3 separate regions of the Homo sapiens genome follow, and regions 1 and 2 are each linked to region 3. The links come from fine-mapping of genetic effects on gene expression. A gene starts in region 3. Each other region holds a variant in brackets. All regions are shown on one strand. Distances are between the middles of the regions.

The links. PIP is the estimated chance that this variant, and not a neighbour inherited with it, causes the effect.
Region 1: its variant is the best candidate, but not a certain one, in a credible set for the expression of ZNF124 in minor salivary gland (GTEx, PIP 0.83).
Region 2: its variant is the best candidate, but not a certain one, in a credible set for the expression of ZNF124 in whole blood (TOPMed, PIP 0.56).

What each region holds. Positions count from the first base shown.
Region 1 is chr1:247,118,373-247,126,888 of GRCh38, reverse strand. It overlaps the pseudogene FGFR3P6 and a transcript of ZNF124 not described here. Among named protein-coding and RNA genes, the nearest start is that of LINC02897, 10 kb to the right of the region's middle. The variant A/G (reference allele first, on the strand shown) is at 2,922.
Region 2 is chr1:247,132,971-247,144,187 of GRCh38, reverse strand. It overlaps a transcript of ZNF124 not described here. Among named protein-coding and RNA genes, the nearest start is that of LINC02897, 26 kb to the right of the region's middle. The variant G/A (reference allele first, on the strand shown) is at 5,122.
Region 3 is chr1:247,166,165-247,177,381 of GRCh38, reverse strand. ZNF124 (zinc finger protein 124) reads left to right here and starts at 5,362. Exons shown (of 4, transcript NM_001297568.2): 1 at 5,362-5,534. The coding sequence starts at 5,505. RefSeq lists a silencer at 1,601-1,895.

The sequences.
Region 1 (8,516 bases), 49 kb after region 3:
CCCCTGAGGCGCCTCGGGTCTCACTGCAGGATCCCGAGGAGCCGCGGGGCTGCGGGCGCGGGCCGGGGAGGGAAGCTGCTTCGGGCAGGACGGAAGTCGCGGTGCAGAGACGGGACCGGAGCCCGGGGTGCCGCTGCCCGCCCAGCTCTGCCGGGCGCCAGAAAGGACCGAGGGCCGCGCCGCGCCGCGCCAGCAGGGACCCGGGTCCGCCCTCGGGAGCCGACCGCTGGGAGCCCGGGGCCCGGGGCCGCCACAGCCCCTTCCCTTCTCCAGACCCCCGGCGGCGCAACTCACCATTTCCCAGCTTCCGGGGTGTCCCGACATCCTCCCTGCGAATCCCCCAGTACATGCAGGTCACAGGAGGGCCCCGGCTGCGGCAGAGCCTCCTGAACCGCCGAGAGTGAAGGAGAAGCGCAGGGCTACTGACCGAGACACGCACGTGCGGGCACGAGAGACAAAGGCCGGGCACACCCGGAAGCCGCCTCGGGTTTTCTAGCGGAGCGCCGGATTAGGCAGTCCCCGCCCCGGTGCCCCTGATTGGGTAGGGCCTCAGGCCCCGCCCCCTCAGACTCTTAGTGACAGGTGACAGCTCCCGCGCGTGTCTGAATGAGGCAGCGTTCTGGCTACAGCTCTTCTCCAAGAGGGTTTCCTCTCTGGGTTGGGACCCAGCCTTGCCTAGGGGACATTCATTTATATACACTTAACCTTGTATACAATGTTACATTCATTTGTGAATAATATATATGATATTTAAAATAGGGTACAATATAATAATAATTTTTGTATCTTTAGTAGAGACGGGTTTCACCATGTTGGTCAGGCTGGTCTCGAACTTCTGACCTCATGATCCGCCCACCTCAGCCTCCCAAAGTGCTGGAATTATAGGTGTGAGCCACTGTGCCTGGACTATTACATTTTCTAGAATTTTATATGAATACAATTGTACAATATTTACTTTTTTTCCCCAGTGAAAATAGCTTTTATTCAAATGTCCTTACTTTTATCTGGATTATTTTACTTGGACTAATTAATATGAGATCCAGCCACATTGCTGCATGTAGTTTAAATGGGTGAATTCTATGCTGTTTGAATCCTCTCTCAATAAAGTTGTTACCAAAAACTCAATGAGATACCACTGCATTCCCAGTAGGATGACTAAAATGAAATAAATAAACAGATGGCTGGGTGCGGTGGCGCCTTTAATCGGCGCCGGCGCCGATCACGAGGTCAGGAGTTGGAGACCAGCCTGGCGAATGTGGTGAAACCCCGTCTCTACTAAAAATGCAAAATTTAGCCGGGTGTGATGGCAGACGCCTGTAATCCCAGCTACTCAGGATGCTGAGGCAGGAGAATCCCTTGAAACGGGAAGGCAGAGGTTGCAGTCAGTGGAGATCTCCAGCCTGGGCGAAAGAGGAAACTCTGCCTCAAAAAAAAAAAAAAAAAAAAAAAAAAAAAAAAGACAAAAACAGGTGTCGGTGAAGATACGGAGAAATTGGAACCCTCACACCCTGCTGGTGGGATTGCATAATGGCGCAGCCACTCTGGAAAACAGTCTGGCAACCCCTCTAAAATTCAAACATAGAGGTACCATTTGACCCAAAAACTCCACCCCCAGGTACAGATACACAAGAGAAATTAAAACATCCACAAAAAAGCTAGTACACAAATGTTCACAGCAGCAGCATTCGTAACAGCCAATGTGTGAAAAAGTCTCCAGTGTCCGTCAGAGGATAAAATGTGGTCTATCCTTGCAATGAAATCTTATTCACCCATAAGAAGGAATGAAGGCCGGGCGCTGTGGCTCATGCCTGTAATCCCAGCACTTTGGGAGGCGTAGGCAGGTGGATCACTTGAGCCCAGGAGTTGCCAGCCTGGGAAACATGATGAGAGCTCGTCTGTACTAAAAATGCAAAAAAATAAAAAAATAGCCGGGCATGGCGGTGTGTGCCTGTAGTCCCAGCTATTGGGAGGCTGAGGTGGGAGGATCACCTGAGCCTGGGGAGGTCGAGGATGCAGTAAGCCATGATCACACCACTGCACTGCAGCCTGGGTGACAGAGCGAGACCCTGTCTCTAAAACAAAAGGAATGAAATGCTGATACATACTACAACATGAATGAACCTTGAAAGTATTTGGCTAAGTAAAAGAAGCCACATACACACACACACAAACCCCACATATTGCGTGATTTTATTTTTATATGAAATGTCCAGAATTGGCAAATAGAGACAGAAAGTAGATTAGTAGATTAGACAGAAAGTTGCATAGGCTGGGGGGAAAGGAGTTGGCTGCTACAGGATGCAGAATTTCTTTATGGGGTGATCATCTCAAATTGACTGTGATGATGGTTGGGCAACTCTGTGGATGTACTAAAAGCCACAGAATCAGAGCCGGGCGTGGTGGCTCACGCCTGTAATCCCAGCACTTTGGGAAGCCGCGGCGGGTAGATCACAAGGTCAGGAGTTTAAGACCATCCTGGCCAACATGGTGAAACGCTGTCTCTACTAAAAATACAAAATTAGCCACATGTGGTGGCCTGCACCTGTAATCCCAGCTACGCAGGAGACTTAGGCAGGAGAATCGCTTGAACCTGGGAGGTGGAGGTTGCAGTGAGCCAAGATCACACCTTTGCACTCCAGCCTGGGCGACAGAGCGAGACTCTGTCTCAAAAAAAAAAAAAGCCACAAAATCATTCATTTTAAATGGCTAAATTTTACGTGTGTGATCCCAATAAAGCTATTAACAAAAAATGGCTCACGTAGGCCGGGCGCAGTGGCTCACGCCTGTAATCCCAGCACTTTGGGAGGCCGAGGCGGGCGGATCATGAGGTCAGGAGATCAAGACCATCCTGGCTAACACGGTGAAACCCCGTCTCTACTAAAAATACAAAAAATTAGCCGGGCGTGGTGGCGGGTGCCTGT[A/G]GTCCCAGCTAAAAGCACATCACAAAGGGCATAAATACAGGAAGGGATGAAGAGTTGCTGCCATTTTTGCAATCAGTATCATGCCTTTTCTTGCAGATGAGGTTTATATAACTTTCCAAGACAAGGAAGTTGTGCAAAGCCTCACAGCTACTAAGAGGCTGGGCTGGGACTCAGGATTAACTTCGTGACTCCAAAGCCCATGCACCTCTGCAAGCCACACGAATCAAGCAGCTTCTCTAAACCTTTGAAGTCCTGGAAAGTAACTCTTCTGCAATAGAAGCAAGAATCCTGTGAGATTGGGATCCATCTAGTACTCTTCACCATTTGGAACAACTGCCTCCAGAGAATGCTTCTGACGCATCTTGGAAGAACTTGGAATAACCTGAGGAAATGGTCGATTTGCTAATTTAGGAAACCAATGTTCGATACGTGTGTGATCCCAATAAAGCTATTAACAAAAAACGGCTCACGTAGGCCGGGCGCAGTGGCTCACGCCTGTAATCCCAGCACTTTGGGAGGCCGAGGCGGGCAGATCACAAGGTCAGGAGATCGAGACCATCCTGGCTAACACGGTGAAACCCCATCTCTACTAAAAATACAAAAAGTAGCCGGGCGTGGTGGTGGATGCCTGCGGTCCCAGCTACTCAGGAGGCTGAGGCAGGAGAATGGCATGAACCCGGGAGGCGGAGATTGCAGTGAGCCGAGATCGCGCCACTGTACTCCAGCCTGCGTGACAGAGCGAGACTCCGTCTCAGAAAAAAAAAAAAAGAACATAATATGTGTATTGTGTCTCATGTACACTGTTGAAGAGGTAGCAGCCCATGATTGATGAAATAGTCCAGTGATCTTATGAGATACAAGTTTGTTTTCATGTTCTCTCTCTGACATTGTCTATGCTTAGTTATTGTGTTCATGCTTATTCCTTCATGGTCCAAGTTGGCTGTCCCACCTCCAGGCATCAAACCACATTCCAAACAGCAACCAGGAGGAAATAGTAAGCTGATAGGTCATGGGGAATTAGGTTGGAAGCCATTGCTTTTTAATTTACAGAAGTCCATTCTCCCCAGGCACTTCTTTCTAAGTCTCATTGATCAGAACTCAACCACGTGGCCACCATCAGCAGAAACATCTCTCTGTAGCACCGTGAAACACATGAGAACATAACTGGGGATGACCGTTGTTACTTGAACTATTTTGAAAGATCTGACATAAAGGTCATCGCCTTGTGCACTTCAATGGGTGTTACTGCAAAACTCCCAGGGCTAGGCATGGCGACATACACCCGAAATCTCAGCTATCTGGGAGGCTGAGGTGGGAGGATTGCTTGAGCCCACGAGTTTGAGGCTGAAGTGTGCCTGTGAATAGCTACTGCACTCCAGTGCCTAGGACACATAGGGAGACCTCACTTTTTTATGGCTGCATAGTATTCCATGGTAAAGAAATGTACCACATTTTCTTTATCCACTTCACTGTTGATGGGCATTTATCCACTTCACTGTTGGTGGGAATTTAGGTTGAATCCATGTCTTTGCTATTGAAGTCACACTTTTTAATCAAGTTATTTAACTTTCCTGTGTTCATTTGTGTTATATACCAGAACATTTTTATTTCTATGGTTTTAATGCCACCTAATATGATTATCAATGTGTCATTCTCCATAAATCATTGTGTTATACATGTTAAACGATTAGGTATTAAGTGTATAGGTATAAATCACTTAGAATAATGACTAACACATTGTATGAACTAAATAAGTACTGATTCATCTGATTCATCAAATTTCCATTATTCATACCATTCATTATTTATTAAGTGGTGTAGTATTTGTTCTTATCAACATTTGCTTTTCTGTCCTATCTAAATATTAATGAAACAGTGGATGTGGGCTCAGTGTGCTGTCTTGAAATAATCCAAAGTCAAATGGCATGCTTCACTGGTTTCCTTTAGATGCAATAACTCATTTGACTCACACAATAAAAATGAGTATTAAGTATATCAGCTATCCTTATATTTGTCATGCTACAACAGAGAAAACTCTGGGTCACTGGGCACCGTGGCTCACGCCTGTAATCCCAGCACTTTGGGAGGCCAAGGCAGGTGGATTGCCTGAGCTCAGGAGTTCAAGACTAGCCTGGGCAACATGGTGAAACCCCGTCTCTACTAAAGTACAAAAAATTAGCCGGGTATGGCAGCAGGCACCTGTAGTCCCAGCTACTCGGGAGGCTGAGGGAGGAGAATTGCTAGAACCTGGGAGGCGGAGGTTACAGTGAGCCAAGATCATGCCACTGCACTCCAGACTGGATGACAGAGCAAGATTTTGTCTCTTAAAAAGAAAAGAAAAGAAAACTCTTGGTCATTCACTGATGACACCAAAGCCCTACCCTCATAAATCTTCCATGTCGACTGCCCAGAAAACCTAAAAACGTGGAAACTATGGAATACTACAAACGCAGAATAAATATTTCATTAGGAACAAATTATCAAGGTAAACCCGAGATGAAATAGGATAAATACACATATAGTAAAAAGATTTAATTAATTTAAAAATATACAAAGTTGCAGAGAGAAAAGCAAATGTTTTTGAACCAATTATGAGAGACAGTCACAGGAGTGATTCCCACTTTTATGAATTGACACATTCTTTAGGAGAAACCACATCTAATTTTGGACTTTGGTTCATAGCAGGTTCTATATGAACCAACAAGTTCATATCCTGGAGAACTACTCAGTGCACAGGATTTTGTTTCCTGCTGGTACCTTTTTTTTCTGAGACAGTGTCTCTGTCTCCGAGGCTGGAGTGCAATGGCACCATCTGGGCTCACTGAAGTCTCGACTTCCCGGGTTCAAGAAGGAAAATTGCTCCCACCTCAGCCTCCTGAGTAGCTGGGACTACAGGTGCATGCCGCCACCACACCCAGCTCATTTTTCTTTTTTTTTTGAGACGGAGTCTCGCTCTGTCGCCCAGGCTGGAGTGCAGTGGCGCGATCTTGGCTCACTGCAAACTCTGCCTCCTGGGTTCATGCCATTCTCCTGCCTCAGCCTCCCGAGTAGCTGGGACTACAGCTGCCCGCCACCACGCCTGGCTAATTTTTTTTTTTTTTTTTTTTTTTTTTTTAGTAGAGATGGGGTTTCACCATGTTAGCCAGGATGATCTCAATCTCCTGACCTCTTGATCCGCCCACCTCGGCCTCCCAAAGTGCTGGGATTGTTGTATTTTTTGTAGAGATGGGGTTTCACTGCGTTTCCCAGGCTGGTCTCAAAGTCCTGGACTCAAATGATCCTCCCGCTTCGGCCTTCCAACATAATTTTGTCTTTCATAGGTTACTCCAAAAATTCTATAATGCTAGTAGATTTCAATGAAATCTACCCGTGAAGTGAAGACTTCAGTGAAGCGAGGCCTCCAGCCTGCCCATTCCCCTGTACCCAGCCAATGGTGGTGCCCACCTTGAGAACAGTGAGGTAGGGCGTGCTGTCCACCCTGTGCCCAGCCAATGGTGGTGCCCACCTTGAGAACAGTGAGGTAGGGCGTGCTGTCCACCCTGCACCCAGCCAGGGGTGGTGCCCACCTTGAGAACACTGAGGTACGGTGTGCTGTCCACCCTGTGCCCAGCCAATGGTGGTGCCCACCTTGAGAACAGTGAGGTAGGGCGTGCTGTCCACCCTGTACCCAGCCAACGGTGGTGCCCACCTTGAGAACAGTGAGGTACGGTGTGCTGTCCAGGCCCGCCTTGCTGACATTCACCTCCGTGTGCTAAGGTGCTGTACACCTGCCATGGAGCTGCACCTCGCTGCCTAGCAGAAGGCGCTGGTGAGGAGAACACATTGAGAGGGCCCAGCTGGGCTTAGGGCTACCTCACTTCATGCTCCCTGCCTGAAGGCCACAGCCCACACACAGCCTGTCCAGCATGTAAGTTTGCTGGATGCTGCTGAGCTTGTTCTTCATGACATGTGTGGAAAACAGCAGTCTGAACGCACCGCCCTCTTCATAACCAGACTCTACTGCCGGTGCCTCGGCTCCAAGTGGAAGGGCGAGAGAGGATGGCAGCCATGCCCCCACCACCCTCCAGGCCCACCTCGATGCTCGCGTGTGATGCTTTCCACAGAACTTCTTCTGGCTCTTCAGCCAGATGGAGGGAGTAGAGTTGCCCATGGTCAGGCATCAGAAGCAAATGGTGTTGGTGTCTGGCACCACAAGCTGGTTCCTGTCCACCCGCTGGAGCTGAGTCCAGTGGGGTCCCTGCTGGCAGAGTGCACAGGAAGGCCATAGCCAAGGTGGGGAGCAGAGGCCCGTCTGACCCGACGCCCTTCCAACCTTGCCCTCGCCTGCAATCTCGGTTTTTCCTCCTGTGTAGGGAGTGTTGGCCTTTTAAAGACCCCTGCTGAAGTAGACGAGGCTCCCAGGAGCCCCGACGTCATGTTCCCCCATCTCAGGCTTTCTCAGAGCTGGGCCATGTGTCCCCTCCCTGTCTGCTTCCTCCAGCTGGCAGCTCCTGCTGAGAGGTCCAGCGTGCTCCACCTTGGCCTTGAGACCTTCAGGTCATAAGGGCATCTGCCAGCGGAGTACCCACCTGCCCAGGGAAGCACACTGAGGCAGGCCCACCAGGAGAAGGCCCAGGACCCAGCTGGGTGCATGAACCGGCACAGGCCTTGGGAACAGTTTACCAGAAGGGGAAATCCGGCTGCCTGGAGAACTGGGAGCTTCAGAGATGGCTGGGCAGCGATGGCCCACTAGAATCTGCGCCCCTAGGCCTCCCTCTGTAGAGCTCCAGGGCTTGGTGGGTACCGGGTGAGGATGGCATCCAGGAGGCCCCGTCTCTGCCCCCTTCTGGTGTCCAGGGCTGCTGCAGCCTCTACCCTCAGCCCAACGGTTTTCTCCTTCCTAAGGACTGGTTTGGGGGCGGCCTTCCTGCCAAGACTCTTGGAAATGCTGAACTGTCATCCCCCAGGAGGGGGCACCAGGGGACCAGGAGGAAGATAAGCCCTCCCCGTGATGACCTTGCTGTCACCCGCCCACAGGGACACGCCCCCTCCCCGTGATGACCTTGCTGTCACCCGCCCACAGGGACACGCCCCCTCCCCGTGATGACCTTGCTGTCACCCCCCCACAGGGACACGCCCCCTCCCCGTGATGACCTTGCTGTCACCCCCCCACAGGGACACGCCCCCTCCCCGTGATGACCTTGCTGTCACCCCCCCACAGGGACACGCCCCCTCCCCGTGATGACCTTGCTGTCACCCGCCCACAGGGACACGCCCCCTCCCCGTGATGACCTTGCTGTCACCCCCCCACAGGGACACGCCCCCTCCCCGTGATGACCTTGCTGTCACCCGCCCACAGGGACACGCCCCCTCCCCGTGATGACCTTGCTGTCACCCCCCCACAGGGACACGCCCCCTCCCCGTGATGACCTTGCTGTCACCCCCCCACAGGGACACGCCCCCTCCCCGTGATGACCTTGCTGTCACCCGCCCACAGGGACACGCCCCCTCCCCGTGATGACCTTGCTGTCACCCCCCCACAGGGACACGCCCCCTCCCCGTGATGACCTTGCTGTCACCCCCCCACAGGGACACGCCCCCTCCCCGTGATGACCT
Region 2 (11,217 bases), 33 kb after region 3:
ACAACTGAGACCTCAGGAGATATGGAGAATGGAAGGGCATTAATAACTTTTTGTCTTTCTGAATCACCCTTAGTGAGGGCCAAAGAAAAATCTGGAAATCATGTTGGGAAAGGACAGGGTTAGTATTGGAGCAGATGGTAGGGCAGATGCTGTGGGTTCATATCCTTTTGGTCTCTCCACATCACCCTTCACGGTCCTTTGGGATTGTTCTATCTCTCTCTGTGATGTGGATGTGGAGTTTTATTGAGCATGCATGCTTACTGCCTAGCTGTCTGAGGCTACGGGGGTAGATGATGGAGAACTGTTACTTTTTTTTCTGAGAGACTTAGTATCTCATGGCTGAGCTTAAGCTGGATCTATGGAGCACTGATCCCATTGTCTACTTCTGTGAGCTAGTGCTCCTCCATCTAGTTTCTACCATCTAGAGACGAATCTTATCAATACTTGGGTAAACCAAAGACATAAGTCAGGTAAGGGAATCCTAGACATAGCCCGACTCTTGCCTTTTTCCTCTTCTCACTTTAAATCTTGTTGGCTCAGAGAGTTACCCTCAGATGGAGTCTCTCAGGAGTAATTAGAACATTGTACTTCTAGAGAAGCTGGTGGAACAGGGTAGGGTTCCCAGTTCAAAGCTTCTGTCAAAAACTTCCAGTCTGTGTGTAGTAAATAAATCTAGAAACGATCCTAGAGCTCTGGATGGATCATTAAGAGAGGGCAGGATTTCTGTAGATCAGAATACCAGGACACATGTTCATCCGTCACCTTCCGGGGTCAAATTCTCGGTTAAGCCTGTGTGGTAGGGCTGTAGAGCAGTGTGTGCCTGGGAAAGCCTCTGATCACACATTTCCTCAGGGATTTTTTAGGCCTGATGTCCCTTTGAATTTACTTTAACAATCCTTTTGTAATTTTATTTTTTACATCAATTGTAACTTAGTATTATTATATATATAGGCATTTGGGTGTGTCTTGAAGGCATGTCCTGGTTTCAAACTGATTTGTGGTATATTATTGAATTAGGCCCATTTACTGGAATTATAAACTGCTATCCAACTACACAAAGAGCTGAGGATTCTGGGGAGGTCAGGATGGAGATGAAATAGAAGTGAGGAGAAAATAGCTCTCTCTCTCACATGCAGATTCTTTATGGATAAAATGCATAATTACCTAAAATTTAAAATACTCAAAAAATTATCTAATCAGTATGTAATGGAAATTATAGAGCAAAGAACAAAACAAACACCAAAATAATTTTCTTTTTTCTACATAAAAATTAAATAATTTACATAATGAAATATTCCATGATCCCAGTGTAAAATGCCAATAGAATATATGTAAAAAAAAAAAAAGACAATACCTGTATTAGATTTAAAATCTTCTACAATACATAAGATGAATTGAAATTTTTAGAGTAGAAGAAAGTTTAAAATTAGGTAAATGATATGAGCCAGGTGAAGAATAGGATCATTAAGCATTTAATATACCTTGTCTTAGATTCTGTGTAAGAAAATGAAAAGTAAAAACAATGGCATGGTGATTTCATCAAACTGAAAAAATAGAAGCATTTCTCCAGAGAGAATGCTATTAAAGGTTGGTGAATATCAATCTTCTGAGGACTCGGCCTGGGAGAGTGAAGAGCTACAGCCTTTTCTGAGTTCAAGTGGGGAAGATATAAATATATATTCATTTTGCTACTCTTTTTAATATACAAACATATATGAATGATTACACCCTAATAATATTTTCTGATTTACAGAAATGCATGACTGTCATAAGACAGCCAAAAGACATCAGATGTCTTATATGAAATACAAAATTTGTCAGTAATCAGCCTTAAAGAAAACTGGGTTTACCATTTTCAGTATATTGTTCAAATTCCTTTTCTACAACCACCACAGGTTCTGTTATTAACATGGTGTGTCTAAAGTTGTCACTGCTGGTCATCCAGAAGAATCTGAGAAGCAGCAAGTCTTTGTTTTCACTCCCAGACCTGTTTTCTTTGCTGAATAGGGTCAGGAGACCCCCAGGTCAAGCTTCATCTCATCTATAGATAGGCTGAGTTACCTTTGGTCCAAAAAAGGGCTGGTCCTATCTTTCTCCCAGAAGGAGCTCTGGACTTCTCCAGCCAGGGCTGGACCCTGGCACAAGTCAGGGTGGCTGAGATTCCCAGCCCTCAGCAGGGAACCCAGGCCACCTGGGAGTCCATGGTGTAGAAGTTCTGCACTGCAGCACAGAGGCCCCCAGAGCTGGCAAGCTAAGAGAGCTGCTCCCAGGTCAGCAGAGAATGGACCTACTGTGCTTGTGTCTGAACTAGGTCTTGATAAATGGCCTCAGACTTACCATAGAGGTCACCAGGCTTTTCAGAACTGGCAGCAGGTGGTCTCCTGGGGACTGAGATATGGGCTGCTTGCTGCACCCAGTGCGGACCCTTGGGGATCCACTATGGCAGGCATCACAGGTCTTCTCAGTTTTGCTGCTGTAGGGCCCCCAGCTCATGAACACAGAACAGTCACCTCTCCCATGGCTGAGCATACCCACCAGTAGTGGCCCAGAGTTTCCCCATGGAGAGGCTCCCAGAGGCATATGACAGCCCCTCTGCCATTGCCACAGTAATAGTTCTATCCCTGCTGCCTTTGGTCTGGGGAAGAAACAAAGAACCTGAGAGCTACACCCAAGCTTAACAGCATACCACCACAGCCACCATACCGAGAGACTAGTCTTTTCTCCCTGTGAGCCTTCATCCCATTGCTCCCCAACAAGCAGAACCCCAAGCTTATGCCAGCAGTGCAGGTGCCCCACCCACCAGCTGAACACCCCCAGTAACTATGGTTCTGCATTTCTTGGAGGTGGAGCCCCCAGGAGCAAACAAAAGCCTTGCTACCGCTGTCTGCAGTGGAACTGCCCTTGCTATCCTCAGACAAATGAATGAACAAATACCATAAGTGCCTTATCCACACCTACAACAAACTGCAGTTGACCCAAGGAGAGGAGACCAGTTCATCTCCCACAGGTTCCACCCACTCCCCCTGCTTGTCACCAGATAGGAAACCCTGGGCTTGGTCCCACAGCACAGACCCTCCGTTCTGGGCTGATTGCACTTAGCAATTGCTAACCGGCTCCTCTTGGGTGGAGCCCCCAGGAGACAAGCAAAAGACCTTTGGCCACAACCACTATTAAGGTCCCTTCCTCTGCTGCCTCCAAGCCAGGGGAGGAACATAAGCCCTGAGAGTGCCCCAGAGCTGTGGTGGGCAGCCCAAGAGTGCCAAGCCACAATTTATAGCCAGCATTCAAGTGGGAGAGAAGCCCACACTTTCAGAACATTGAGAGGGAGCATGACTGCAACTGTCAGAAAATATAGGGGAGCCACATGACCAAGCAAGAGCCTACCAACTAACCAGTATGCCTAAGCACCACCTACTGGATCACATCCCGAAGTTCCAACACCAAAAACACCTTGCTAGCATTCCCCTCTGTGAGACCAAAGACAAGTCAGCTACAAATGAAGACCCTGCACAAAGCCTTGGCTCTGCGAAGACATCCAGAAAAAAAAGTGTACTGACTGTACTCAATCTACACTGCAGTTACAGGAACACCCACCTGCAGACATGAGAAAGAACCAATGAAAGAACTCCAGTAACTCAAATGGCCAGAGTGTTGTATGTCCTCCAGATGACCACACCAGTTTTTCAACAAGGGTTCTTACTCAGGCTGAGCTGGCTGGAATGACAAATGGAATTTAGAATATGGATAGGAATTAAGATCATCAAGATTCAGGAAAATGCAAAACCCAATCCAAAAAAACTAAGAATCACTGGAGCTGAAAGACAAGATAACTGATATAAAAAAGAGCCTGATGGTTCTGACAGAGCAGAAAAACACACTACAAGAATTTCATAATGCAGTCACAAGTATTAACAGCAGAATAGACCAAGTGGAGGAAAGACTCTCAGAACATGAAGACTGGCTCTCTGAAATAAGACAGTCAGAAAAATTAAAAAGAATAAAAAATAACAAAACTTCTGAGCAATATGGTATTTTGTAAAGTGGCCAAATCTATGAATTATTGGCATCCCTGAAAGGGATGGGAAGAAAGCAAACAAGTTGGAAAACATTCTAGGATATCATCCACGAAAACTTCCCCAACCTTGGTAGAGAGGCCAGCAGTCACATTCAGGGAAACCAGAGAACCCCTGCAAGATTCTACACAATAAAATCATCCCCAAGACACACAATAATCAGATTTTCCATGGTCAAAATAAAAGAAAGACTGTTAAAGGCAGCTATACAGGGCAGGTCACCTACAAAGGTCACCCCATCAGGCTAACAGCAGACCTCTCAGCTGAAACCCTATAAGCCAGAAAAGACTCAGGGCCTATATTCAACATTCTTAAAGAAAAAAATCTTCAACCAAGAATTTCATACCCAGCCAAACTAAGCTTCCTAAGTGAAAGGGAAATAAGATCCTTTTCAGACAAGCAAATGCTGAGGGAGTTCATTACCACCAGACCTGCCTTATGAGAGATCTTGAAAGGAGCACTAAATATAGAAAGAAAAATCTGCTACCAGCCAATACAAAAACACACTTAAATACACAGATCAGTGACACTATAAAGCAACCACACAAACAAGTCAGCATAATAACCAGCTAACAACATGACAGGATCAAATCCACACATATTAATACTAATCTTGAATGTAAACAGGCTAAATGCCCTGCTTAAAAGGCGCACAATGGCAAGCTCCATAAGAAGGCAAGACCTGATGGTATGTTGCCTTCAAGAGACCCATGCAGTGACCTAGGATCAAAATAAAGAGATGGAGAAAAATCTGCCAAGCAAATGGAAAACAGAAAAGCAGGGGTTACAATCCTAGTTTCTGACAAAACAGATTTAAACCAATAAAGATTTAAAACAACAAGGGTATTACATAGTGGTGTGAACCGTGAAAATTTGAGATGGGTCTCAGTAATTTAGAAAGTTTATTTTGCTAAGGTTGAGGACACGCATCCATGACACAACCCCAGGAGGTCCTGACAACATGTGCCCAGGGTGATCGGAGCACAGCTTGGTTTTACACATTTTAGGGAGACATGAGACATCAATTAACATATGTAAGATGAACATC[G/A]GTTCAGTCCAGAAAGGCAGGACAACTCAAAGCAAAAGCAGGACAACTTGAAGTCGGGAGGGAGCTTTCAGGTCATCGGTAGATAAGAGACAATGGTTGCATTCTTTTGAGTTTCTGACTAGCCTCTCCAAAATGAGGCAGTCAGATATGCATTGATCTCAGTGAGCAGAGGGTTAACTTTGAGTAGAACGGAAGGCAGGTTTGCCCTAAGCAGTTCCCAGCTTGACATTTCCAGTTATTTGTTACTGTCAATCATGTTCACACTCAGCTTTAAACAATTTGCCAATTACACTTTCAATTTTCCTACAGATGTACTGGTTCATGAAGATGTGCTTATGGGTTTCTACTCTAGTAAGTTTTGGGTCTATGTATGTACCTTTCTTTCTCTGCACTCTTGGGGCAAGGAATTGCCATGTGATTGATCGGAGAATTGTTCATTTTAAATTAGTCCAGAATTTTTATGTTTTATTTCTTCTAAAACAAACGAAAACGGGATACGTGTAGAACATGTGAGTTTGTTACATGGGTATACATGTGCCGCGGTGGTTTGCTGCACCTATTGACCTGTCCTCTAAGTTCCCTCCCCTCACCCCCCAACCCCCAACAGCCCCTGGTGTGTGTTGTTCCCCCTCTGTTTCCATGTGTTCTCAATGTTCAGCTCTCACTTATGAGTGAGAACGTGCAGTGTTTAGTTTTCTGTTCCTGTGTTTGCTGAGGATGATGACTTCCAGCTTCATCCATGTCCCTGCAAAGCACATGATCTCATTCCTTTTTATGTCTACATAGTGTTCTATGGTATATATATACACATATATATATACACCACATTTTCTTTATCCAGTCTATCATTGATGGGCATTTGGGTTGGTTCCATGTCTTTGCTGTTGTAAATAATGTTGCAATAAACATACGTGTGCACGTGTCTTTATAGTAGAATGATTTATATTCCTTTGGGTATATACCCAGTAATGGGATTGCTGAGTCAAATGGTATTTCTGGTTCTAGATCCTTGAAGAATCGCCACACTGTCTTCCACAATGGTTGAACTAATTTACATTCCCACCAACAGTGTAAAAGCGTTCCTATTTCCCCACAGCCTCACCAACATCTATTGTTTCCTGACTTTTTAATAATCACCATTCTGACTGGCATGAGATGGTATCTCATTGTTTTGATTTGCATTTCTCTGATGATCAGTGATGTTGAGCTTTTGTTCATGTGTTTGTTAGATGCATAAATGTCTTCTTTTGAGAAGTGTCTATTCATATCCCTTGCCCACTTTTTGATGAGTTTTTTGTTTTTTCTTGTAAATATATTTAAGTTCCTTGTAAATTCTGGATATTAGACCTTTGTCAGATGGATAGATTCCAGAAATTTTCTCCCATTTTGTAGGTTGCCTGTTCACTCTGAGGACAGTTTCTTTTGCTGTGCATAAGCTCTTTAGTTTAATTAGATCCAATTTGTCAGTTTTTGCTTTTGTTGCAATTGCTGTCGGCATTTTTGCCATGAAGTTGCCCACGCCTATGTCCTGAGTGATATTCCCTAGGTTTTCTTTCTTTTTTTTTTTTTTTTTTTTTTTGTATTTTTAGTAGAGACAGGGTTTCGCTATGTTGGCCAGGCTGATCTCGAATGCCTAACCTCATGATCCACCCACCTTGGCCTCCCAAACTGCTGGGATTACAGGCACGAGCCACTGCACCTGGCCTCCCTAGGTTTTCTCCTAGGGTTTTTATGGTTTTGGATTTTACATTTAAATCTTCAACCCATCTTGAGTTAATTTTGGTATAAGGAAGCAGTCCAGTTTCCATTTTCTGCATATGGCTGGCTAGTTTTCCTAGCACCATTTACTGAATCAGAGATCCTTTCTTCATTGCTTGTTTTTGTCAGGTTTGTCGAGGATCAGATGGTTTTAGATGTGTGGTGGTATTTCTGAGGTCTCTGTTCTGCTCCGTTGGTCTATATATCTGTTTTGGTACCAGTAGCATGCTATTTTGGCTGCTGTAGCCTTGTAGTATAGTTTGAAGTCAGGTAGCATGATGCCTCCAGCTTTGTTCTTTTTGCTTAGGATTGTCTTGGGTATATTGGGTCTTCTTTGACTCCATATAATTTTTTTTTTTTTTTGAGATGGGTCTGACTCTGTTGCCCAGGCTAGAGTGCGGTGGCATGATCTTGGCTTACTGCAACTTCCAACTCCTGGGATCAAGTGATTCTCTTGCCTCAGCCTCCCCAGCAGCAAGGATTATAGGTGCACACCACCACGCCTGGCTAATTTTTGTATTTTTAGTAGAGATGGAATTTCACCATGTTGGCCAAGCTGGTCTCAAGCTCCTGACCTCAAGTGATATACCCGCCTTGGCCTCCTAAAGTGCTGGGATTACAAGCATGAGCCACTGTGCCTGGCCAATTTCACATGAAATTTTAAATAGTTTTTGCTAATTCTGTGAAGAATGTCAATGGTAGTTTGATGGGAATAGCACTGAATCTGTAAATTACTTTGGGCAGTGTGGCCATTTTTGTGATACTGATTATTCCTATCCATGAAGATGGAATTTTTTCCATTTGTTTGTGTCCTCTCTTACTTCCTTGAGCAGTGGTTTGTAGTTCTCCTTGAAGAGGTCCTTTACATCCCTTGTTAGCTGTACTCCTAGGTATTTTATTCTCTTTGTAGTGATTGTGAATGGGAGTTCATTCATGATTTGACTCTCTGCTTGCCTATTGGTGTAACCAAATGCTTGTGATTTTTGCACAGGGATTTTGTATCCTGAGACTTTGCTGAAGTTGCTTATCAGTTCAAAACGTTTTGGGGCTGAGATGATGGGGTTTTTCAAATATAAAATTATGTCATCTACAAACAGACTTCCTCTCTTCCTATTTTAATACCCTTTTATTTCTCTTGCCTGATTGTCCTGGCCAGAACTTAGGAGTGGTGAGAGAGGTCATCCTTGTCTTATACCAGTTTCCAAAGGGAATACTTCCAGCTTTTGACTATTTAGTATGATATTGGCTGTGGGGTTGTCATAAATAGCTCTTATTATTTTGAGATATGTTCCATCAATACCTCGTTGATTGAGAGTTTTTAACATGAGAGGATGTTGAATTTTATTGAAGGCCTTTACTTCATATATTGAGAGAATCATGTGGTGTTTGTCTTTGGTTCTCTTTATCTGATGGATTATGTTTATTGATTTGCATGTTAAACCAGCCATGCATCCCAGTAATGAAGCTAACTTGATCGTGGTGAATAAGTTTTTTGATGTACTGCTGGATTCAGTTTGCCAGTATTTTCTTGAGGATTTTTGCATTGACGTTCATCAGGGTTATTGGCCTGAAGTCTTCTTTTTTTGTTGTGTCTCTGCCAGGTTTTGGTATCAGGATGATGCTAGCCTTATAAAACGAGTTAGGGAGGAGTCCTTCCTTTTCAATTGTTTGGAATAGTTTCAGAAGGAATGGTATCTGCTCCTCTTTGTATTTCTGGTAAAATTCTGCTGTGAATCCATCTGGTCCTGGGCTTTTTTTGATTGGTAGGCTATTAATTACTGCCTCAATTTCAGAGCTTGTTATTGGTCTACTTAGGGATGTGACGTCTTCCTGGGTTAGTCTTGGTAGGAGTCCAAGAATTTATCCATTTCTTCTAGATTTTCTAGTTTATTTGCATTGAGTGTTTATAGTATTCTCTGATGGTAGTTTTTATTTCTGTGGGGTCAGTGGTGATAACTCCCTTTATCATTTTTTATTGTATCTTTTTGATTCTTCTCTCTCTTATTAGTCTAGCTAGTGGTCTATTTTGTTAATTATTTCAAATAACCAGCTCCTGGGTTTGTTGATTTTTTTGGAGGGTTTTTTGTGTCTCTGTCTTCTTCAGTTCTTATCTTAGTTCTTTCTTGTCTTCTGCTAGCTTTTGGAATAGTTTGCTCTTGCTTCTAGCTTTCTGATGTAGGCATTTAGTACTATGATTTTTCCTCTTAACATTGTTTTAGCTGTGTCCCAGAGATTCTGGTACATTGTCTCTTTGTTCTCATTGGTTTCAAAGAACTTCTTGATTTCTGCTTTAATTTTATTATTTACCTAGCAGTCATTCAGGAGCAGGTTTTTTGATTTCCATGAAATCGTGTGGTTTGGAGTGAGTTTCTTAATCCTGAGTTCTAATTTGATTGCACTGTGGTCCGAGAGACTATTATGATTTCAGTTCATTTGCATTTGCTAAGAAGTGTCTTACTTCCAATTATGTGGTTGATTTGAGAATAAGTGCCATGTGGCACTGAGAAGAATGTATATTCTATTGATTTGTGGTAGAGAGTTCTTTAGACATCTACTAGGTCACTTGATCCAGAGCTGAGTTCAAGTCCTGGATATCCTTGCTAATTTTCTGTCTCATTGATCTAATACTGACAGTGGGGTGTTAAAATCTCATACTATTATTACACAGGAGTGTAATTCCCTTTGTAGGTCTGTAAGAACTTGTTTTATGCATCTGGGTGCTCCTGTATTGGGTGCATATATATTTAGAATAGTTAGCTCTTCCTGTTGAATAGTTCCCTTTACCATTATGCAGTGCCCTTTTTTGTCTTTTTTGATCTTTGTTGGTTTCAAGTCTGTTTTGTCAGAGACTAGGATTGCAATCCCTGCCTTTTTTTTGCTTTACATTTGCTTGGTAAATATTCCTTCATCCCTTTATATTGAACCTATGTGTGTCTTTGCACATAAGATAGGTCTCCTGAATACAGCACACTGATGAGTCTTGACTCGTTATCCAATTTGCCAGTCCAAGTCTTTTAATTGGGGCTTTTAGCCCATTTACATTTAAGGTTATTATTATTATGTGTGAATTTGATCCTGTTGTCGTGATGCTATTTTGTTATTTTGCCCATTAGTTGATGCAGTTTCTTCATAGTGTCATTGGTCTTTATATTTTGGTGTGTTTTTGCAGTGGCTGGTACCAGTTTTTTCTTTCCGTATTTAGTGCTTCTTTCAGGAGCTCTTGCAGCACGGGCCTGGTAGTAACGAAATCCTTCAGCATTTGTCTGGAAAGGATTTTATTTCTCCTTCACTTATGAAACTTAGTTTGGCTGAATATGAAATTCTGAGTTGAAAATTCTTTCCTTTAAGAATGTTGAGGCTGGGCGCCGTGGCTCATGCCTATAATCCCAGCACTTTAGGAGGCCGAGGTGGGTGGGTCACCTGAGGTCAGGAGTTTGAGGCCAGCCTGACTAACATGATGAAACCCTGTCTCTACTAAACACAAAAAACTTGCCGGGCATGGTGGTGCATGCCTGTAATCCCCGCTACTTGGGAGGCTGAGGTGGGAGAATCGCTTGAACCTGGGAGGTGGAGGTTGCAGTGAGCTGAGATCGCACCACTGCACCCCAGCCTGGGTGACAGAGTGAGACTCCATCTCAAAAAAAAAAAAAAAAAAGAATATTGAATATTGATTGAATATTGGCTCCCTATCTCTTCTGGCTTGTAGTTTCTGCTGAGATGTCTACCGTTAGTCTGATGGGCTTCCCTTTGTAGGTGACCTGGCCATTCTATCTGGCTGCCCTTAACAGTATTTCCTTCATTTTGACCTTGGAGAATTTGCTGATTATGTGTCTTGGGGTTGTTCTTCTTGAGGAGTATCTTAATGGTGTTCTCTGTATTTCCTGAATTTGCATGTTGGCCTGTCTTGCTAGGTTGGGGAAGTTCTCCTGGCTAATATCCTGAAGTGTGTTTTCCAGTTTGTTTCCATTCTCCCTGTCTCCTGCTGGTACTCCAGTCAATCATAAGTTCAGTCTTTTTATGAAGTCCCTTATTCCTTGGAGGCTTTGTTAATTCTTTTTCATTTTTTTTTCTCTCTTCTTGTCTGCATGTCTTATTTCAGTAAGGCAGTCTTCATCTTTTCTGAATGTCTTATTTCAGTAAGGTGGTCTTCACACTCTGATATCCTTTCTTCCACTTGGTCAATTCAGCTGTTGATACTTGTGTGTGCTTCATGAAGTTCTCATGCTGTGTTTTTCAGGTCCACCAGGTCATTTGTGTTCTTCTCTAAACTGGTTATTCTAGTTAGCAATTCCTTTTGTAGCAGGAGGAGCCACAGACAAAACTCCTCAGACACCGGGT
Region 3 (11,217 bases):
TATTTACATAATTATGAATAATGATGGGAAAAATTTACCATTGAATGAACAAGAAACGAAAGACTGATTATAAAGTCTTGAGCTTAATCGACACCTCTGAAGAAAAGAGGAGTGTACTAGAATGAAAAACCATTTACACAAATCCACAAGCAATTTTACATGCAATTAATGTGTTCTTTGAAAAAAAAGTATCCCGTGTTTTGTTTTATTAATAAAAATGTCATTGTTATTATACACAAGTAACAGCCAGCATTTTAAAACCTATGACTGGTCATTGATAACATAAAATGATCATGAGAATTTCATGTTAAAAGTCAAAGAGGAGATGGCTAATGCATGCTGGGCTTAATACCTAGGTGATGGGTTGATAGGTGCGTGGGCCCAGACTCCCCTTTTCTCTGTGATTGGAGTGGATGCCAAGAGTGAGGAGAAGCCAGACAGTGGGAGCGAGCACTTCCAAGCCTGTGGGGGTGGGGGAACCTTCCTGAGCCCTCCAGAGTGCAGAGATGCCTGGGTCTGCAGCCATGGCGGCTGTGCCCAGGAGGATGGGCCTCCTGCCTGCTCCAGCTCCCAAGAGCACAGGGATGCCCAGCTCACCTATGGGTCAACCCCCAAGAACATTTATAATTTCTCTAGAATGGCATAACCCTTCCAAAAGCTGACGGGGACCTTGGGAATCTTCTTCCAGAGGGTCCTGGGTCAGGGATATTGGCCTGGCTGTGAGACAGACAACCTCCTACCCTCCCTGTGCCTCCTGGGCCAAGACGTGGAAGCCTCATCAGGATGCACTGCCACTGGCAACAGGCCAAGAACGGGGTCTGCTTGGGGGGCGCAGGTGGTTCGGGGGTCCCAGGAGAATTGAGAACTTCCTGCAGACAAGATGCCTCTTTTTCCTCATTTTTGGTCCAACTGATACACTGGATAGTGAGATAAACCTTACATTTTAATTTTTATGTATTTTTTCATTATATGCAAAATGTATACTTAAACAGACAGTGGATTTGAAGGGAAAAGTATTTGAGATTCATTCTTTCAAGTGTCATTTAGTCCTATATACATAGGTTTATATATATTATATATATAGTGTATATATATAGCATATATAGTAATGTATATATGTAGTGTATAGTATATATGTAGTGTATATATACTATATATGTGTATATATAGTATATATGTATATATGCATACATATGTATATAGTATACATGCATACATATGTATATAGTATAGATACATATATAAATATATATGCTATATGCTATATATAGGACTATATATATATACACATACACACACGCGTATATATATAGTCCTATATACATAGTCCTATATACAGATTTGCCCTATGTGTAACAACTACGTAGATAAAAAAGTTATGAAATTGTTTTTGGTTTTACAATGCTATATTAAAAACATTGAAATTCACCAATTGAACAATCTATGCAAGGGTATTATGGTTTTTTGTTATTGTTGTTTAAGTCCTGAAATACAGAGATAAGAGCTGAGTGAGCAGCCACTGGTGGAGAAACAGTCTTCACGGGGCCAGTATTTTTCTGCCCCGTCTCATTTGGCTGCGGATCAACACATGTCATTTAGTACAAACAAGCAAACAAAAATAGCAATATGCTTGTGTGCCTACCCCAGATGCTTTATGTGCAATAATGAAATGAGGAAGGGGAAGATAAGAGAATGGAGAAAAGGATACTGTACCAGCCAGAATGTGGAGTCAGAATGTGGTGTCAGAATGTGGAGTCAGAATGTGATGAAATCACATTGTGGGTTTCTACATGAGAATGTCTGCTGGAGTTGTAGGAAGAGGTCCTGGGTAAAGGAGCAGGTGTGTTCTTAGAAGGCCCTCCTGTCTGCTGCTGGAACACATCACCTGTTTATTCGTCCTCCATTTCCCGCTTTGCAGGTGTGTCAGTTTCACTGAGTGACCGTCCGTAAAATCCAAATCTGATTTGCTTCATGGCCAAACCCTGCCATTCACCATAGGCTTCCACTCCTTCATTCAGTGATGTGTACTTCTTCCCCTTCAACTGCGCCCCAGAACCATCCTACCCTCCACCTTCAAATTCACAGAATTGTTGTTCTGTCTTGACTCAAACTTTTTTCCTGCCACAGCAGAGCACTGAAAGTCTCTTAAGTTACAGCTTCACAACAGAAGTCTAAAGTCTGCGCAGAACTAGCACATCTGCAGCCGTAGGAGCAGCAGAATGACCAGGCAGCAGAGCTTTATTCCATGTTTTCATCTCCATTCCTACAACAGCAGCGGCAGCAGCAACAACTGCTACTACTTCTAATTGTGGTAAAAATACTTAGAATAATAATGCATAATGACAATTGTAGTTGACATTTTTGGTTTATATATGATTATTTGTAATGTTCTACAATTTACCTTTAGTAATATACACATAACTTTTGCATAAACATCAGGACCCTAAAACACCACACCTGATGATTGAATCTCACCTATGGACCTAAGGTCTTCACATGCTGGTGCAGGCCCTCTCACCACTCCATCTCCAAACAGAGGATATGGTCCACCTTCTGAGTCAATATAGTAGCCCTGACACTCACATGATCTATTTGAGGTCTTGGAAAACAAGCTTGCCTTGTTAAAAATCAAAGGATGGGCCGGGCACGGTGGCTCACGCCTGTAATCCCAGCACTTTGGGAGGCCGAGGCGGGCTGATCACGAGGTCAGGAGATGGAGACCATCCTGACTAACACGATGAAACCCCATCTCTACTAAAAATACAAAAAAATTAGCCGGGCATGGTGGCCGGCGCCTGTAGTCCCAGCTACTCGGGAGGCTGAGGCAGGAGAATGGCGTGAACCCGGGAGGCGGAGCTTGCAGTGAGCCGAGATCACACCACTGCACTCCAGCCTGGATGACACAGCGAGACTCCATCTTAAAAAAAAAAAAAAAAAAAAAAATCAAAGAATGGCTTCAAATTGTAGTCAGCTGTTTCGTTAAATTGCAGCAGGAAGAAATTTTTCTCAGCAGGTCTATTTTCATGTCACTTGCTTTCAGAGTAAGAGGTTATTTCAGACACAGTGGTTTGATTTAGTCTTTGTTGAAAATCATAAATAGCCTACAAACAACAAAAAGGGATGAATAGGATTTGCGTTCATGTGGAGTGCGTCATCTGTGCTTTTAAATTTATCCTATGAAAAGAAATAAAAAATATGTAATATCGAACATTGGTTTCCTAAATTAGCAAATCGACCATTTCCTCAAGTTATTCCACGTTCTTCCAAGATGTGTCAGAAGCATTCTCTGGAGGCAGTTGTTCCAAATGGTGAAGAGTACTAGATGGATCCCAATCTCACAGGATTCTTGCTTCTATTGCAGAAGAGTTACTTTCCAGGACTTCAAAGGTTTAGAGAAGCTGCTTGATTCGTGTGGCTTGCAGAGGTGCATGGGCTTTGGAGTCACGAAAAGTTAATCCTGGTCCCAGCCCAGCCTCTTAGTAGCTGTGAGGCTTTGCACAACTTCCTTGTCTTGGAAAGTTATATAAACCTCATCTGCAAGAAAAGGCATGATACTGATTGCAAAAATGGCAGCAACTCTTCATCCCTTCCTGTATTTATGCCCTTTGTGATGTGCTTTTATAGCTGCTTTCATTGAGAGGCAGAATCTGTTTCCCAAACCTTGAATCTCACTGGCCTTATTTGCTCTGGCAGTAGAAAGCTGTGAATATGACCATGTGCCAGTTTGGGGCCGAGGCACAAAAGCTCTTGAATGCTTCTGCTTTTTATTTCACAACCCTGTCATCTCCATAATAACAAGTCCATGTTAGCCTGCTAGAGGATGAGATACTATAGGGAGGAAAACCAAAGTGCCACAGTTGACAGGCAGCTCACCCTCAGAAGCAGCATTGCCTAGTCAACCAGCAGCTGACCACACGTGCCTGAAAGGGCCCAGCAGAGACCAGAAGAATGGCTCACTTGAGCCCAGCCTAGAAGGTGGACCAGCTCAATCTAATACGTTTTGGGGAATTTTACTGTGAAGCAATAGGTAATACGTACACCTAGTGCAGACAGGATGCCAGGATTCAATGACATGTTGATTGCAATTTACCAGGCAAACACAAGGCACCCTGTATGTACTGATTTCCTTTTCCCTTTATGTAAAGTTGGATTTCTGGTTAGACGGTGTTGAGCCATACAGAAGTGCACGTAGACATGCATGTGATTTGTGCTTAAACTCACACACTTAAATTCCACACCACAGGAGGAAACAGAAAACCACAGCCTGACCATTAGGGCCAAAGCCAAATTGCAAAATGAGAAGTTTGTCTTTAATGTATTCCCTCTACATCTAAAGTCCTGAGGTTAAGGCTGTGGACAAATCTGAAGACATGGGTTTTCTTCTCCTGGGGCCCCTCATCTTTTTTTCACTGTCTTATCTATAGAAGAGGCTGGGCCCCTGGCAAGAGCAGGTGGGAAATAGTAGACTCCCTCTAGATACTTCTTTATTGCAGCCCACTTCTCTCTCTGGGCACTGTCTCTGCCACCCTTGGGCCTGAGGAGAGATGTTAGCAGAAGGAGGGCATTCCCTCACCTCTAGCAGAAAAGAGGGGTTCGGGCCCTTCACTCCCTGAGGTCAGGGGAACCAGAGCCCTCAAAACTGCACTTCAGTGTGACAGTCATTGCCCACAGGGGTCTACTTAGCACCTAGAATGTGGCTGGTCTGAATCGGTACATGCTGGAAGTTTAAAACGCAGAGTGACTTTGAAAGATTTAGTACCAAAAAACAGAACAACAAAAAATACTTCATTAATATTATATTTATCATATATTTAAATTATAATATTTTGTATATATTGAGTTAAATAAAGTATTGCAATCAATTTTACCTGTTTATTCCTCGTTTCTGTTGCTACTAGAAATTTTAAAATGACACCTGTGGCTCACATGTGATTTCTGTGGAAATCGCAGCCTTGGAGGATTGCTTCCCTTTTCAAAACTCGGGCTCCTCAGACTGCTTCCTCAGAAGACCAGAGGCCATGAAGGTTAATAAGTCTGAAATTTTAAAAGAATTATTATTATATTGTTTCCTATTTTAAATATCATATATATTATTCACAAATGAATGTAACATTGTATACAAGGTTAAGTGTATATAAATGAATGTCCCCTAGGCAAGGCTGGGTCCCAACCCAGAGAGGAAACCCTCTTGGAGAAGAGCTGTAGCCAGAACGCTGCCTCATTCAGACACGCGCGGGAGCTGTCACCTGTCACTAAGAGTCTGAGGGGGCGGGGCCTGAGGCCCTACCCAATCAGGGGCACCGGGGCGGGGACTGCCTAATCCGGCGCTCCGCTAGAAAACCCGAGGCGGCTTCCGGGTGTGCCCGGCCTTTGTCTCTCGTGCCCGCACGTGCGTGTCTCGGTCAGTAGCCCTGCGCTTCTCCTTCACTCTCGGCGGTTCAGGAGGCTCTGCCGCAGCCGGGGCCCTCCTGTGACCTGCATGTACTGGGGGATTCGCAGGGAGGATGTCGGGACACCCCGGAAGCTGGGAAATGGTGAGTTGCGCCGCCGGGGGTCTGGAGAAGGGAAGGGGCTGTGGCGGCCCCGGGCCCCGGGCTCCCAGCGGTCGGCTCCCGAGGGCGGACCCGGGTCCCTGCTGGCGCGGCGCGGCGCGGCCCTCGGTCCTTTCTGGCGCCCGGCAGAGCTGGGCGGGCAGCGGCACCCCGGGCTCCGGTCCCGTCTCTGCACCGCGACTTCCGTCCTGCCCGAAGCAGCTTCCCTCCCCGGCCCGCGCCCGCAGCCCCGCGGCTCCTCGGGATCCTGCAGTGAGACCCGAGGCGCCTCAGGGGAGAGGCCCAGCGCGGTGTGCGGGCTCGCGCCTGCGAGGAGCTGTGGCCACTGGCGTTTCCAGTCCCTCCTTAATCCTGTTAAAAATTAAACTGAGGTTTAATTAAAGCGTTACAGAGTTTGAGCAAACAGCGATTCATGAGTAGGGGAGCACCCAGCCACGGTTTTTGGTTTGTGGGCCACCGGACGGTCTTGATGGAAAGGCTTCTGTAAAGTGTGTAAGGAAACAAACCAAATTTATTTATTTTTTATTTTAATGATCGGGTGGGGCGGGGGGGGGGTCTCCCTGTGTTGCCCAGGCTGGTCTTGAACTTCTGGTCTCAACCTCCCGAAGTGCTGGGATTACCCCGCCCAGCCCAAAGCAACCCCAATTTAATAACTGATTGGTTATAATTATGTAGTTCTGTTATTCGGATTATTTAGGTGGATGGTTCCTGGTTATGTAATCAGAGGTAAATTGCTGATTTGGGGTTAAGTTTTCTTTCCCTTCAAGTTAATTACAAGAAAGGCATGAAGTACCTTTAGGTTTTCTTGGTGAGGAACTCAGGGCACCATCATCACTTAAGGGAGGAGACCACCCCTCATATTGTCTTATGCCCAATTTCTGCCTCCAAAGAAAGAAGAAGTAAAAACTAAAAGGCAGAAATGAAATCCACAGGCAGACAGCCCGGCGCCGCGTCCTGGGCCTGGTTACAGATTGACCCTTGACCTGACCGGTTGTGTTATCTATAGATTCCAGACATTGTATGGAAAAGCACTGTGAAAATCCCTGTCCTGTTCTGTTCCGTTCTGATTGCCGGTGCATGCAGCCCCCAGTTATGTACCCCCTGCTTGGTCAATCGATCACGACCCTCTCACGTGGACCCCCTTAGAGTTGTAAGCCCTTAAAAGGGACAGGAATTGCTCACTTGGGGAGCTGGGTTTTTGGAGACGTGAGTCTTGCCAAAGCTTCCGGCAGAATGAAGCCCTTCCTTCTTTAACTCGGTGTCTGAGGGGTTTTGTCTGCAGCTTGCCCTGCTACAACTTCAGTCTAATTTCTTCCTATTTAATTATTTCCACAAGGGTACTGGTTTCCCCTGCATTTCCCAAATGTAAGGCAAGCAGGGTCTCAAATCCATGACCGTATTCCCCAGCCTAACTTCTAGAACTTGCAGTAAAATTCTAAATTTCCAGTTTCTTCCTCATACTCTCAAACTCCAACTTCACCTCTCCAATTTACAACATTATTAATTATTTGTTCTTTATTGTGCATTTGAACCAGATGCAGTAATGTAATTGTTTATCATGTTTTCACTGAGCAGTGAGGAGCTGTTTCTGAACATTCCTTGTGAAAACAGAGAATAATCACCTGATCTAGTCCACTATAAAAAATTCTTTGTACCTCTCCTCCTTTTGTCTTCCCTAGGCACACTCACAAACGTCTTTGGATGGAGGTTTCCCTTTGGAACCTTCACGTGGTGTTGTGTCCTCAGCCACCCTCCTGTCTTTTCTGGGTCCTGGGTTCAAAACTGTTTGAGGATGACCTAATGTGCCCACACTGGCCCTGTCTCTTGGAGTGTCATAAATAGTGAATGTCAGCTGTTGGGTCCTCTTCTCCCAGAAGACAAGGTGAGGTTTAGGGGTGGAGCCTCTCAGAGGAGCAGCTGGATGGCATGAATCCCCTGGGACCGAGAGGAGTCTCCTGGGATACTCTTCTATACTCTTCCTCTAAAAAGCTAATCCACTAGGACTTAGATTTTTTTTTCTTCTCTTACCCCCGTTATCACTCCTTAGAGACAAAATGCTGGTCAGGCAGTCGGATACTGGTATTGAGGGAAGAAAGAATTTCTGCCCTCTGGATTGTCTCATGCTTGTGAAGGGAGAACAGCTATTCCAAAGTACAAGGAAACCCCGCCCCGCAGTGAGGCAGGAACCTGAAAAGCAAAATGCATTTGGGGCACAGTGGGGACACGGCACAGGTTTCTGGGGGAGGGTGGGCATTGAGTACTTCCCTGAGCAGGATGGGGTGGGAGGACACAGTGGGGACACTGGGAGAGACACTGGTGTCATCCAATCCAATGCTGGTATTTTGAGGGAGAGACAGAAATGATTCCTGCCCTCTGGATTCTTTCACACTTGTGAAGGGAGAAAAACAACCTTAAAGAACAAGAAAATTTCTTCCCAGGAAGATGACACAAAAACCTGCCAAGCAAACTGCACCTTAGGCACACAGTGGGCCACAGTGCATTGCGCTGGGAGGTTGGTCCTTGAGTACGTGGTCTCTCCAATGAGGAGACCGGGGACCAGGGAATCTCCTGCTTGAGAGATGGTCTTACTTGACATGTGAGTCAAACATATCTGTGTTCCAGTTAGCGCTGCTCCTCCCTGGGCTGTCCTCTTGCAAAGCTTTGTTCATTTATTGGTGCCTTAGGTAAACATAAAATGTATTTCATCAATAGAGCTTTAAAGATAAAATATTTACAAAGAGGCAAAGAAAGAAGTGGATATTTTAAATATATGTAGATATTTTAAATCCACTTTATATATATATTTAGTTTTTTAATTAAAAAAATTTTTAATGTTATATCAATACATTTGGGGTAGCAGGTGGTTTTTGGTTACAAGGATAAGCTCTCTAGTGGTGATTGCTGAGATTTTGGTCCTGTCACCTTATCAGTGTACGCTGTACCCAATATGCAGTCTCACCCCCTCCCACCCTTGCCCCCAAATCACCAAGGTCCATTATATCATTCTTATGCCTTTGTAACCTCATAGCTTAGCTCCCACTTATAAGTGAGAACATAGAATATTTGGTTTTCCATTCCTGAGTTACTTCACTTAGAATAATGCCTCCATTTCCATCCAAGTTGCTGCAAAGCCCATTATTTCATTCCTTTTTATGGCTGAGTAGTATTCCACCACATTTTCTTTATCCCCTCATTGGTTGATGGGCATTTTAGGTTTGTTTCATATTTTTGCAGTGGCAAATTGTGCTACTGTTAACATGCGTGTGCAAGTGTTTTTGTTTGTTTGTTTTTTAATTGAGACAGAGTCTCACTCTGTTACCCAGGCTGTAGTGCAGTGGCACGATCTTGGCTCACTACAACCTTCCGTCGCCTGGGTTCAAGGGATTCTCATGCCTTAGCCTCCCAAGTAGCTGGGACTACAGGCATGCACCATCACGCCCAGCTAAATTTTTTTTGTATTTTTAGTAGAGACAGGGTTTTGCCATGTTGGCCAGGCTGGTATCGAACTCCTGATGTCAGGTTATCCACCTGCCTCAGCCTCCCAAAGTGCTGGGATTGCAGGCATGAGCCACCACGCCCAGCCGTGTTTTTTTCATATAATGACTTCTTTTCCTTTGGGTACATACCCAGTAGTGGCATTGCTGGATTGAATGGTAGTTCTACTTTTAGTTCTTTAAGGAATCTTCATACTGTTTTCCATGGCGGTTGTACTAGTTGACACTCCCATCAGCAGTGTAGAAGTGTTCCCTGTTCACCACATCCACACCAGCATCCCAGCATCTATTGTTTTTTATTTTATGATTATGGCCATTCTTACAGGAGTAAGGTGGTATCTCATTATGGTTTTAATTTGCATTTCCCTGATAGTGATGTTGAGCATTTTTTCATATTTATTGGCTATTTGTATATCTTCTTTTGAGAACTATTCATGTCCTTTGCCTACTTTTTTGATGGAATTTTTTCTTGCTGATTTGAGTTTTTTGTGAATTCTGGATATTAGTCCTTTGTAGGATGCATAGTTGGTGAAGATTTTCTCCCACTCTGTGGGTTGTCTGTTTACTCTGCTGATTATTTCTTTTGTTGTGCAGAAGCTTTTTAATTTAATTAGGTGCCATTTGTTCATTTTTGTTTTTGTGCATTTGCTTTTGGGTTCTTGGTCATGAGTTCTTTGCCCAAGCCAATGTTTAGAAGAGTTTTTTTGATATATTTTATTTTCATTCCCCTGAGTGTATGTGGTAACTTTTTGAGGTCTCGTCTCTTCTTTTGGGTAGTTTCAAATGAAATTCTAGGGCTTTTAATCAGGAATGCTACCAGGGAAGAGAAATAGGAAAAATCTCTCTTCCTTTATGATTACAGAAAGTGAATACATTTCCACACACAAAAGTGTGGTACATAAATTGGTGAATTACAAAAATTAACCAAAACATCAGTTTGTTTCCTGCAGGATGAAGAATTTGTTAGAGTGGGTAAGTCTGTGCTGTTTTCTGTTGCCTGCATTTGGCACATTAATGCTAAATCTGTACAGCAACCTTGCCCGATCACTGTGGCCAGGATTTCCAATACTGTGTTGAATGGGAGTGATAAAAGCAGAGGTTCTCTACCGCTCTTTCCTGATCTTGGGAGAAAAGGGTTTTTTTGCTTGTTTGTTTTGGTATTTCAGCATTGATGGTGATGTTAGTGCTGGTTTTTCATACTGTAGTTTCCTTGTAGTCCTAGTTTATTGTGTATTTTTATCATGAGTGGGTCTTAATAATTTGCCAAATACTTTTCCTGCATCCGTTGCAATAGCTACGATATTTCAGTCATTTTGCAAATGTCATACATTACACTGATTGATTTTTCATATATTGAACCATTTTATTTTAGGGATAAATCTCACTTGGTTTTGGTGTATAATCCTTTTACTGTGCTGCTAAATATGGCTTGTGAGTACTTAAGTGAGGATTTCTGCGTTAGTATGATGCTAAATATGGTTTGTTGGTATTTAAGTGAGGATTTCTGCATTAATAGTTATAAAGAACATTTGTAGCTTGTTGTAGTGTCTGTCCAATTTAGGGGTTCTGATTACTACATCAATGTCATATAACTGTGAGTCTGTTTAGATTTTCTAATTCTTCATGATTCATTCTTGGTACACTGTGTGTTTCTAGACATTTGTTCACCTCATCAATGTTATCCAACTTGCTGGTGTGCCCTTAGAGACTTTTTACATAAGATTTAAGACACAGATTTCTTTTATATGTGTTTTACTCTTATTGTATATGTATTCTGCTTATTTTGTAAATGTTTATTTTAGGTTCAGGGGTACATGTACACAATAGCAAATACATGGAATCAACCTAAATGCCCATCAACAGTAGACTGGACAAAGAAAATGTGGTATATACACATTTGTGAATAATGCTACAGTGAACCTATGCATGCATATTTCTTTATGGTAGAATGATTTCTATTTCTTCGGATATATACTCAATAAATGGGATTGCTAGGTTGAATGGGAGTTCTGTTTTAATTTCTTTGAGAAATCACCACACTGCTTTCCAAAATGAGTGAATTGAATTCCCACCAGCAGTGTATAAGCATTCCCTTTTCTCCACAACCTTACCAGCATCTGGTTTTGTTTTGTTTTGTTTTCACTTTATTATTTTTTTGAGGCAGTGTCTTG